Linked DNA regions of Homo sapiens: region 1 is linked to region 2. The links come from fine-mapping of genetic effects on gene expression. Tissue or cell type: whole blood. Region 2 holds a variant in brackets; the other region holds the start of a gene. All regions are shown on one strand. Distances are from middle to middle.

What was found. PIP is the estimated chance that this variant, and not a neighbour inherited with it, causes the effect.
Region 1: it holds the start of LINC00339, and the variant in region 2 is fine-mapped to the expression of LINC00339 in whole blood (INTERVAL, PIP 0.94).

Annotation. Positions count from the first base shown.
Region 1 is chr1:22,023,195-22,028,194 of GRCh38, forward strand. LINC00339 (long intergenic non-protein coding RNA 339) reads left to right here and starts at 1,997. Exons shown (of 2, transcript NR_023918.2): 1 at 1,997-2,178. LINC01635 (long intergenic non-protein coding RNA 1635) reads right to left here and starts at 2,854. Exons shown (of 3, transcript NR_110692.1): 1 at 2,770-2,854; 2 at 1,612-1,772; 3 at 800-1,251. RefSeq lists enhancers at 2,282-2,883, 2,495-2,604, 2,682-2,976.
Region 2 is chr1:22,282,743-22,288,359 of GRCh38, forward strand. No RefSeq gene overlaps it. Among named protein-coding and RNA genes, the nearest start is that of MIR4418, 19 kb to the left of the region's middle. RefSeq lists an enhancer at 3,904-4,403. The variant A/G (reference allele first, on the strand shown) is at 2,232.

The DNA.
Region 1 (5,000 bases), 260 kb before region 2:
AGAGCACTGCAAGCAGAGATCAGCAAAAGAAGTGAAGATGAGGCCGGGTGCGATGGCTCACGCCTGTAATCCCAGCACTTTGGGAAGCCGAGGTGGGTGGATCGCTTGAGGTCAGGAGTTCGAGACCAGCCTGGGGAACATGGCAAAACCCTGTCTCTACTAAAAATACAAAAATTAGCTGGACAGGGTGGTGCAAGTCTGTAATCTGAACTACTTGGGAGGCTAAGGCAAGAGAATCACTTCAACCCAGGAGGTGGAAGTTGCAGTGAGCTGAGATCATGCCACTGCATTCCAGCCTGGGTGACAGAATGAGACTCTGCCTCAAAAAAAGGCTGGGCGTGGTGGCTCACACCTGTAATCCCAGCACTTTGGGAGGCTGAGGTGGGCGGATCACCTGAGGTCAGGAGTTCGAGACCAGCCTGGCCAATATGGCGAAACCCCGTCTCTACTAAAAGTACAAAAAATTAGCCGGGTGTGGTGGCTCGTGCCTGTAATCCCAGTTACTCGGGAGGCTGAGGCAGGAGAATCGCTTGAATCCGGGAGGCAGAGGTTGCAGTGAGTCGAGATCACACCATTGCACTCCAGCTTAGACAACAAGAGCGAAACTCCGTCTCAAAAAAAAAAAAAAAAAAAAAAAAGAAGTGAAGATGAGCTTGTCAGATTGTCAGATTTGCAAAATAGCCAGAAGGTCAGTGTTCTTGGAGCAAACTGAGTGAGCAGGAGGGTGGGGAAAGATGAAGCACAAAGGCTGAATTTTACCTGGGATGATAAAATAATCTTACACAAGCCGAAACGTATATACTTTCACATAAATTTATGTGCCTATGAAATTGGAGTTGCTCTGGGACTCAAGCGGCATCCTTGCCCCAACCCCTGCTGTTTTCTGAAGCATTCCTAAGGAACCTTAGAGTGTGGGAGAGAGAAATAGCAGGAAGTCCTTAACCTAGTCCAACCCTTTTATTTTACAGTTAGGGAAACCTAAGCTGAGAGAGGAGATGGAAACCTGGTTGTAGGAGTGAGTGGGGAAGGGTTCACGGTCATTCTGGTAGGTAGGGGTAGGGCCAGAGCAAGGAGTCCTGGTTTGTGAACCACCAGCTGGCCGTCTAGGAGTTTACAGACCAGCAGTGGCAATGTTGACAAAGGGCATATCTTCCTTTCCCCAAGAACATTGGCTCTGGAGCAATAACCCAGCAATGGGGGCTTTGGGGTGTCCCTCTTAATCCGGTAGCTCAGCCCATTCGGATATGCCAGCTGGAAAGAGAGAGGGAGAAGTCAACTGAGTACCTCTCTCTAACAGCTCAATCCCTCCCCTTCAGGGTTAAGATCGGGGCTGCAGTGGTTAGCATCTCTGCTTCCTCTAGCCGGCTGTGTCATTGAACCTGTGTGATCAGACGCAAACCAGATCAGTATGACTTCAAAGCTTCATCTTTGAGATGGAGTCTTGCTCCCTCGTCCGGGCTGGAGTGCAATGGCGCAATCTCGGCTCACTGCAACCTCCGCCTCCCGGGTTCAAGCAATTCTCCTGTCTCAGTCTCCCGAGCAGCTGGGACTATAGGCGCCTGCCAGCACGCCCGGCTAATTTTTGTATTTTTAGTAAAGACTGAGTTTCACCTTGTTGGTCAAGCTGGTCTCGAACTCGTGACCTCAGGTGATCCACACGCCTCTGCCTCCTAAAGTGCTGGGATTACAGGCGTGAGCCACCGCGCACGGCTAAAGCTTCAGTTCTTAACCATCAGGCGACAGTGCGTAGTCTGGTAGCAACTGGAAAAGTCCTGCTGAGATTTAGCCTCCCATACACACAGAGTCCCACCCCGGACAGGCTGTATCAACCCCCCACGGCCATATGCCCACTGCTGTTTGCGTACAATGAGGCGGGACCTATAGACTGTATCCACTGACTCATCTGGAGTGATTCCGCGGGGCGCCAATACAAGGACCACTGTCTCCAAACAGCAGCCAGCCACCCCTCTCTCTTGGTTTCCTTCCTTTGAGTGGTGCAAAGGCTTAAGGGTGTAACCTCAGAATGGGGCCCTGAATCAGCTGTGGGCGAGCTCCTAGAGTATCTTAATTCCTGCTTCATCTCTTTCCATTTTGCAGTTGGGCAAACTGCGGCTCAGAAAGATAAAGAACTTCTCCGGAGCGAAAAAGCTGCTAAGAATGTATCCAAAACTCCGCACGGTAAGGACTGAGGACGGTCAAAAGACCACCAAGAGTTAAAACCATGAAGCTGCGTAGTACCGCGGAGGCTAGAGAGACCCGGCCCACCCCTTCCAACCTATGCCCCTCCTCTTAACTTCCGGGCGGGGCATGACTTCCGGTTCCCGCGCGGCGCTCCAAAGCTCGGGGAGTGGTGGTCTCCCTTTCCTGGAGTCATTTGTGGGAGTTAGGGTCTTATCCTGATCTTTCCTCGTCCCCCGCTCCCCCGTCCTCCGAGGTGGCAGCTGCGTAGGTGAACGTTCCCCCTGTCCCCTTCCTTCTCCTTCCTAACCCGAGTACGCTTGCTCGCGGCCACAGTGGCTGCCTGCCCCAGGAGCGGGGAGTCCCTGCCTTTGGGGTAGGGAAATGACTGAAATGTGGGACCTGCGGGCTCCTCGGGCTGACTTGGACCTCACTGCAGCTCTGGAGGTGGACCTCGTCCTGGGACCCTAGAAGCCCATTTCCGCACTCGGGCTAGGCCTTCGGAGCCGCGGCAGCATAGTGGGAGGAGTCGGGCTCAGCTCCCCCCCACCACAACCGGGATTATTTTTATCGGTTGAGTCATCGCACTACCTTTCATCCTTGTGGCTTTGGGCAAGTCCCCGCCCTCCGAGCCTCACTTTGCTTATCTGTGAATGGAAATAACAGTGCCTACCCCATGGGCTATCGGGAGGATCAGTTGTGAGGGAATGCAGTGTGGGGTGTCTGGCCGGCAGAATTCCACAAATGGTAGCAGCGGTTGATGTCACTGGAGGTTCCTGGGGCAGTAATTTATCAAGAGTTTATGATCCTGAACTAAGGATCATACGGAGGAGGATCTGTGTATAACGTTCGGCACAATGTTAGATAGGAAGTAAGGGCGCAGTGCACTGGAGTTATTTTTTCTTTTTTTTTTTTTTGAGACGGAGTCTCGCTCTGTCGCCCAGGCCGGAGTTGCAGTGCCGCGTTGTCGCCTCACTGCAACCTTCTCTGCCACATGGGTTCAAGCGATTCTCCTGCCTCAGCCACTCGAGTAACTGGGATTACAGTCGCACATCACCACGCCTGGCTAATGTTTTGCATTTTTAATAGAGACGGTTTCACCATGTTGGCCAGCCTGGTCTTGAACTCCTGATCTCAGGTGATCCACCCGCCTCGGCCTTCCAAAGTGCTAGAAGTATAGGCATGAGCCACTGTGCCTGGCCTGGAGTTATTTTTTCTCACTGGGTTTTTGAGCAAAGAAAAGGAGTTATTAACTGGTGAGGATAAATTTGTGTTTGGTAAGTCGTCTTCTGAAGCTGACAGGATTTATAAGCCGGGTAAATTGTGGTGCTGGTTCATCTTTGAGAGCCAGCCTTAAGAATTGGCCCACTGACTGCTGGGCGTGGTGGCTCACATCTGTAATCCCAGCACTTTGGGAGGCCGAAGCGGGTGGATCACCCGAAGTCAGGAGTTCGAGACCAGCCTGGTCAACATGGTGAAACCCCATCTCTACTAAAAACATAAAAATTAGCCAGGTATGGTGGTGGGCACCTGTAATCCCAGTTACTCGGGAGGCTGAGGCAGAGAATTGCTTGAACCCAGAAGGAGGAAAGGTTGCAGTGAACCGAGATCACACTACTGCACTCCAGCCTGAGCGACAGAGTGAGACTTGTCTCAAAAAAAAAAAAAAGGAAAGAAAAAGGCCCACTGACAGTCTGTTCCTAGAAACCTGGGTTGTAAAGACGTTGGGTGCTGGGAGCTAGAAGAAGTAATAAAAGGGTGTTTTCCTAAGTGGGTTAGGGGTTTTCACTCAGAAAGGTTTTTGGGCAGGAGGGGAAAGCCTGAGAAGTTTTCTTCCTCTTGAGTTGTTATAAAAGTAATACATGTGTGTAGTTAGAAAACAATGCAGAAAGATGTAAAATGAAAAGTGTTTCCCCCTTCTACTGTTTCTGCCCTTCAGAAGTAAATACAATTAATTTCTTTGATAACTTTCTATCTATTATTTGGATATATCAGGTTTTATTTATTTGTATCTGTATTTATGTATTTTTAATTTCCTCAGATCGGGGGTCATACTACACATCGATCGGGACCTTAGTCATGTTGTGATATGGACAGCTTTCTTACCAGTACTCATAAGCCTGCTTCATTTTTTACGTGGCGGCACCACTGAGTGGTTGACGGTACTTCAGTCATTTCCCTGTTGATGGTCACTTAGGTTGTTCCCAAGATTTTGCTTTCCCACAGTGTTTCACCCAACCTTTCTTGGACGAAATATTTTAGTCCAACTCACCCTAAGTGATTCTGCTTTTCCCTATTCACCACCCTAGGTTAGTAACAGCTTACTTTGGGGGATGAGCACACCTTATTAACTGAGCAAAAACCAAGATAATGTGAGAAGAATTGGTGTACTCCCAAGAATATCCAAGGTGCTGGGTCTAGAATCAATTAAAGTCTCCTAAGAAATGGGTCAGGGAACCTTTAGAGAAGGGATGACTAGGTGCTGGGTGCACGGCAGCTAGTCAGCGTTAGTGATTGTTGGCTTCTGTCAATTGTTGCTCAGGAAACAGATTTGAGAGATTCTCTGAGGTGGGAAGGATTTTAAATGTCAGCTCTCCTGCTATGTATTATATGTCTGGAAGGGATTAGTTCTTTGAGGGAAGAGAGTATTAAAGAAAACAATGGGCCGGGCACGGTGGCTCACACCTGTAATCCCAGCACTTTGGGAGGCCGAGGCAAGGGCGGTGGATCATGAGGTCAGGAGATCGAGACCATCCTGGCTAACATGGTGAAACCTCATTTCTACTAAAAATACAAAAAAAAATTAGCTGGGCCTGGTGGCA
Region 2 (5,617 bases):
TGGCGTCACAGCTGCAAACTAGAGACTTCCAGAGCTGGGAGTAACCGAGAGCTCCTCTCATCCATCCTTTTGCCTTCAGGGGCACTTCCGCCCTCCCCCGAAGACCATCCCAGCCAAAGGGAATGTTATCTTTTCCCCAAAGAGCTCCTTTCCTCTCCCTCGGGCCTTCATTCCTGTGGGGAGCAACTTCCAGCCAAAGACCTCTTCCCACGGATTGTAGCCAACTTTAATCCTGCCTGCCCAGCCCATGCTCCTGCTTCTGATGGCAGCACCCTTAGAGAGGCCCCCTCCCCACTCTCAAGTTGTGAGTTGGGTGGGGTTTACCTTGAGTGCACCTGTGGCCCAAGCCTGGCCAATGAGAGCACCACATTCCTCTCGTCTTGTCTCAGGGTTTGTTTGGGGGTGAGTAAGTGATCAAATCAAGGCAAATCAGATTAAGTTCTGGGATTTCGCTGCAACAACGGAGAAGGAGGTGTCCTTTCAGTTGGGTTTGCTGTTAGGATGGAAGCCTAAAGTTGCCATCATTTGGAGAAAGCCTACCTGAGAGTGGATCCAACACAGAGGAAAACAGGTTGGAGGCCTGGAGAGAGACAGCTCCTGACAACTGCAGTTGAGTACTTGGATCCAGCCATGCCTGAAGCTAAAAACCATGGACATTTTAGATATGTGAACTGATAAACTCCCCTTCCTGCCAGTTTCAGTGAGGTTTCAGTCATTTGCAGCAAAGGTGCTCCAACCCCACCCTAGGTCCTTCCTTCTGCCCCACAGCCTTTGTCCTTTGGCTCTGCCCACAGTGGGGCTGGAGAGTCTCTGGCCATGCCCTTAGCAGGAGATTCCTTCATCTCCTTGAGTCTGCTGGTCAATTGCTGCTCAACATCTGTGTCTCCACTTGGACTCACCCTGCTCCTCTCACTGTTTTCTCTTTGGTTTACTGTTATTCAGAATCCTTCCCATTGCAGCTGAGAGAAGCCACATCACATCATCTTGAGCAAAAAAGGGGACTTGCTGGCCTGGGGAATTGCCCTGAGGAGTAGGGCTAGGGGGCTGGAATCACAGCTCAGGGCCAACAGGATTATCTCTGTCTGTCATTCACCCTTGCTGTCTCTGCTTCCCTGTGGGGCTGGCCTCATTCTCTCCCTTCTGTGAGGTGGAGAACTTGGCTACCATCAGCCCAGCTTGGGAACCCCAGTCTAAAACCAGAGAGCTGTTTTCTTCTAAGATCCATATGTCAGTTCCAAGGAAGAACTGACTGACCTTGTTTGGGCCATGTGCCTGCGGGGCAATCACTGCAGCCAAGGAAGTGGGGGACAATCATTGACCAAGTCTGGGTCATGTGGATGAGGCATTGGGGTTCAGTAATTGACAGACTTATGTAAGGAAGGAAGAACAGTTTCCCACAGGGGACCAGGTGGCTGATAGTAAATTAAGGTTGGGGTAAGAGGGATGCTGGGCAGAAAAGAGCAAGAGATATCCACCCCAGATACCACTATCATCACAACCATCATCTCCATCTGCCAGCATCTCCTGAATCCCTACTATGGGCCTGGCTCTGGGAGGAATCCATCCATCCAACCATCCATCCATCCATCCATCCATCCAGCCAGCCAGCCAGCCATCCACCCACTCACCCATCTATCCATCCATCCATCCATATATCTATCCATCCATCCATCCATCCATCCATCCATCCATCCACCCACCCATCTATCCATCCATCCATTCATCCATGCATGCATGCATGCATCCATCCATCCATCCATCCATCCAGCACTGATTCTGCACCAGGCCCATCTATCCATCCATCCATCCATCCATTCATCCATCCATCCATCTAGCACTGACTCTGCACCAGACCCCGAGCTAGAAACACAATAGTGAGTCTCATCTCACTCAGAGATAGGGACTTCAGCCCTAGTTCAGCCTAGAGGGGAAGAACATTTAAGAAGCCATTATATTCCCCTGGGGTAAGAGCACTTTTAGGGAAGTATAATGGACTCAGAGCAGGGCCAGCTAATGTAGTTTTGGCAGAGTGGTCTGGAAGGGTTTCCAGGAGGAGGTGACAGTTAAGCAGAGACCTAAAGGAAGAGCAGGAGGTAACCAAGTGAAGAATAAAAAGAGTCTCCAGGAGAGGTGACACTGGGAGGGCAGGAGTTTCTGCCCCTGTGGCGTTGACAGTGATGTGGGAAGACAGGACTCCTCCCTTCCCTCACTCAGCAGTGCTAACAGGGCCC[A/G]GGATGGCCTCACCCTGGGCTGGGCCTGGGATCTGGAAGTGAGATCGCCTGGGCCCCTTCCCCCAGGAGCTCCTGATTCACTAGGGGAGGCAGGTGTGTGGTGTAAGAAGAGCACCGCATGGAGGAGGCGGTCTGGAGGAGAGCAGGGGTGCGGTGGGTGCTCCAGGGAGGAGGCTAAGTCTGCACTCAGCCTTGACAAGAGGCACTCACTGGGAAAAATGAAGCCACAGGTTCCGGATCGTCAGGGCTGGTGCCTCGCATCCTCCATCCTCATAACTCCCAGTGTGTGGGTGTCCTGAACTGTGTCCTCCTGACCACCCCTCACTCCTGGAGAAGCCTCCACACCAGCCCTCCTTGGTCAGGGTCAGCCTGTCCTCTCTCCTTGTGCTCCCGCGGAGGTGTAGGAAGATGTCCGTTCCGGATGCTGATGAAGAGGAAGGTAGGTACTTGGGCAGGGAAGGTAGAATATGGAGGTTTGGTGAGGATCTGAGGTCAGGAGATGGGATTCAGGGCCTCCTTCAGCTACAGACTCACGGTGTGACCTTGGGCAAGTCCCCGCCCTCTCCGGGCCTTGGTTGATCCCTCGGTTTGGATGGGAGAGTTCACAGGCCTTGTTCCGGCGCCATTTCTGTGCATTTGGAGGTGGGGCTGCACTGGGGCTCCTGGCTCCTGGCCGCGCCGCCTTGCAGCCTACAGGTCCTGAGTCATCTTCCAGGCAGCGGGTGACCTCTCCATACCCCTGTCTCCCCGCAGCCCCGTGACCCTGGGCGGCGCGCAGGGCCAGGCCGTCCCAGGCGGGCTGCACAGTGGAAATCACAATATTGACCCAGCGCGCAGGAAGTGGGGAGGACAGGCCGCCGGGGTTCCCGGCCCGGGGGGAGACAGCTCGCTGAGTGATGAGCTCGGAGCCAAGCTCTCCCTCCCTCCTGGGTCACCGCACCGCTGCCCGCCGCCAGGGCTGTTCCTCTTGGCTCCAGGGCCCCCCTCCCTGGACCTCCCTCCTACACATTCCCCCGGCCCAGGCCCCAGAGGGGAGCTGCTGGTGAGCTCCAGGCCTCAGGGCCTCTCGGGCCCTGCCTCCCTCTAGCCCAAGTCCCGGTTCCCTTGTGCTTCCAGCATCTGAGGGGCCAAAACTGGAACTGCACCCTCACAGGCCACTGACCTTTGGAATAGTCCTGCCTCCCATTTAACAGATGGGGGAACTGAGGCTTAGAAAGGTACTCAGCCAGTTGTATCAGAGCCAGGATCCACACTCAGATCTGTCCAACTCCTGGCCAGTGCTCTGTCTACGCCGTGAGTGAGTTATCGTCGGTCGTGATAATAGTGTGAGTAATAAACTGCTCAGTTAGTGAAGTTTTTGGTCTCACGCAGCCCTCTTGCCTGCCCTAGGAGCGGTTCTGACTTTACAGACGAGGAAGCTAAGGCTTAGAGGTGGTGAGATAACTTTCCCAAGGACACAGCCCGGGAGCAGCAGGGCTGGGATTTGAACTGTGGTCCGCCTGATCTGTCTGTTCTGCCAAGCTGTGGGGCAGGAGGGGCCTGTCCTTGAAGGTCTACTCAAATGCCACCTCCCCTGGGGGGCCCCAGGACCACCTGTAGATTGTGCTCCCCCAGAGGGGTTCCTTGGGGACAATGTAGCCCACAGCCTTGCTCTCCAGTGAGGGGGCCCTCAGTTGGTGTTGCCTGGGGGTCTGGCCGTGGGGTTTGGAGGCTGGTGGGTCAACCCTGCTGGTGGGTTGAGCTGGACCAGGAAGTGCTGCTCAGGGGTGAGCACCCTCCAGGGGGCGTGGTGAAGTAGAGGGGAAATACTCCTGGGCTTGGAGCTGGGGACCTGGAGCCCCTCCCTAACCTCCCAGGGTCTTGGTTTCCTCATTCATAGAAAAGGGCTTGGGGTCCATTTGAAGGCCTACTCCCCAATACCAGAGACTTAGTAGAGCTTTGGGCTTCTATTTCTTCCAGCTCCCTTCCCACAAGCTGGGTGTCATGGGGGAAAGGGTTTACAGAGCTCTCACTGGGCTCTGATTAAGTTTTCTACCCAGGGTTTTCACTATAAGGAGTCACCAATGAAAATCTGCCAATGTGCTTCTTCTAGGGCTGCTGTTGAGGGTGTTTTCTGATTCATCACATGACCCCATTATGAGGAACCCCAGGAAAAATTCGCCGAGAATTCAGTGTAGGCAATTTGCATGAAGTCTGAGAAATTGGTATAATTTTATATTTTGGACACTGATTGTGTCTGTGTGTGTGCATGCTTGCCTGAGTGTTTACATCTTTGTTTTGCCCATGATGAAGCTCAAGGCTAAAACTATGACACATGACAGTGTGGGACTTCCTGATCCAGGTCACCTCCCCTTCCCCTTGCCACAGGCCCCAGAATATAATTTTCATTTATTGACCTACTGTGCAGCATGAAGATACAGCCCTTTACCGATTTCCTCATTTCCTTTGTGCCAGGGTGAAAACTGACTTTCAGAACGTGAACAAGGTGCATGATGGATTTATCCATTAGTGATGTCTGCCATGGGCACACGAAGGGAAGTACTGGTGCATATGCCTCATTTTTGCCTTCCCTCATTCAATCAATGTATAATATTGTATCTAATCATATTTTCTATTTAACCATATATAATTTCATAAGCTGCCTTTAAACCTTTGTGGAACAAGACTTTGTATAAATAATGGTAATTCATTGCAAATAACCATTAGGTTCTTTAACATAGGTTATATTACTATGTCCTTACCATCTCTCTGCAGGAGAAAATGGGTGGGTCATATGGCACCTTTGTGCATATTCGAAAACTATGCCCCTCTGGGCAATAATGGCTTAGTGAGCAGAGCACAGGGTAGATTTTAGCCCCATTCACTTCATCACCCAGGTGTATTTGTTCAGTGCATGACCTTAACAACCACACACAGCAACCCTATTCAGTGTCTTGCCAAATCCCATGGTTATATCCTTCACTCCAAATCCAGTTCTCATTTTATTATATGCAGCACACAGACCATATTCTGGGTCTTGGACATCTATTCAGGCTCCAGGATGGTTGGCATTTGGTCTCAGGCTAAGTGAGGCAGTGGAAGGAAGAACAGCGTAAACAACTTAGCTTGCGTTTGTGCCACAAACAGGCAACATTCCTGCTGGTGCCTGTCCCTGCCTGCCAGATTCCAGTGAGGATCCTGGGCTATGAATAGTCCCAGTGATGCCCTCTCAGAGGACCCACTGGACTTCCCGCAGGCCCGGTCCTTGGCCTCCACCCCACACTGGCCACTGGGAAATCAGGGACAAGACCTCTTCCCTGGCACCTTCATCCTGCATGTTTCTTCCCGCTTGCTTTCCGCCCGGGATTACCGCCGGGGCTGGGCTTCTGCACGTGGCTGTTGCTTGG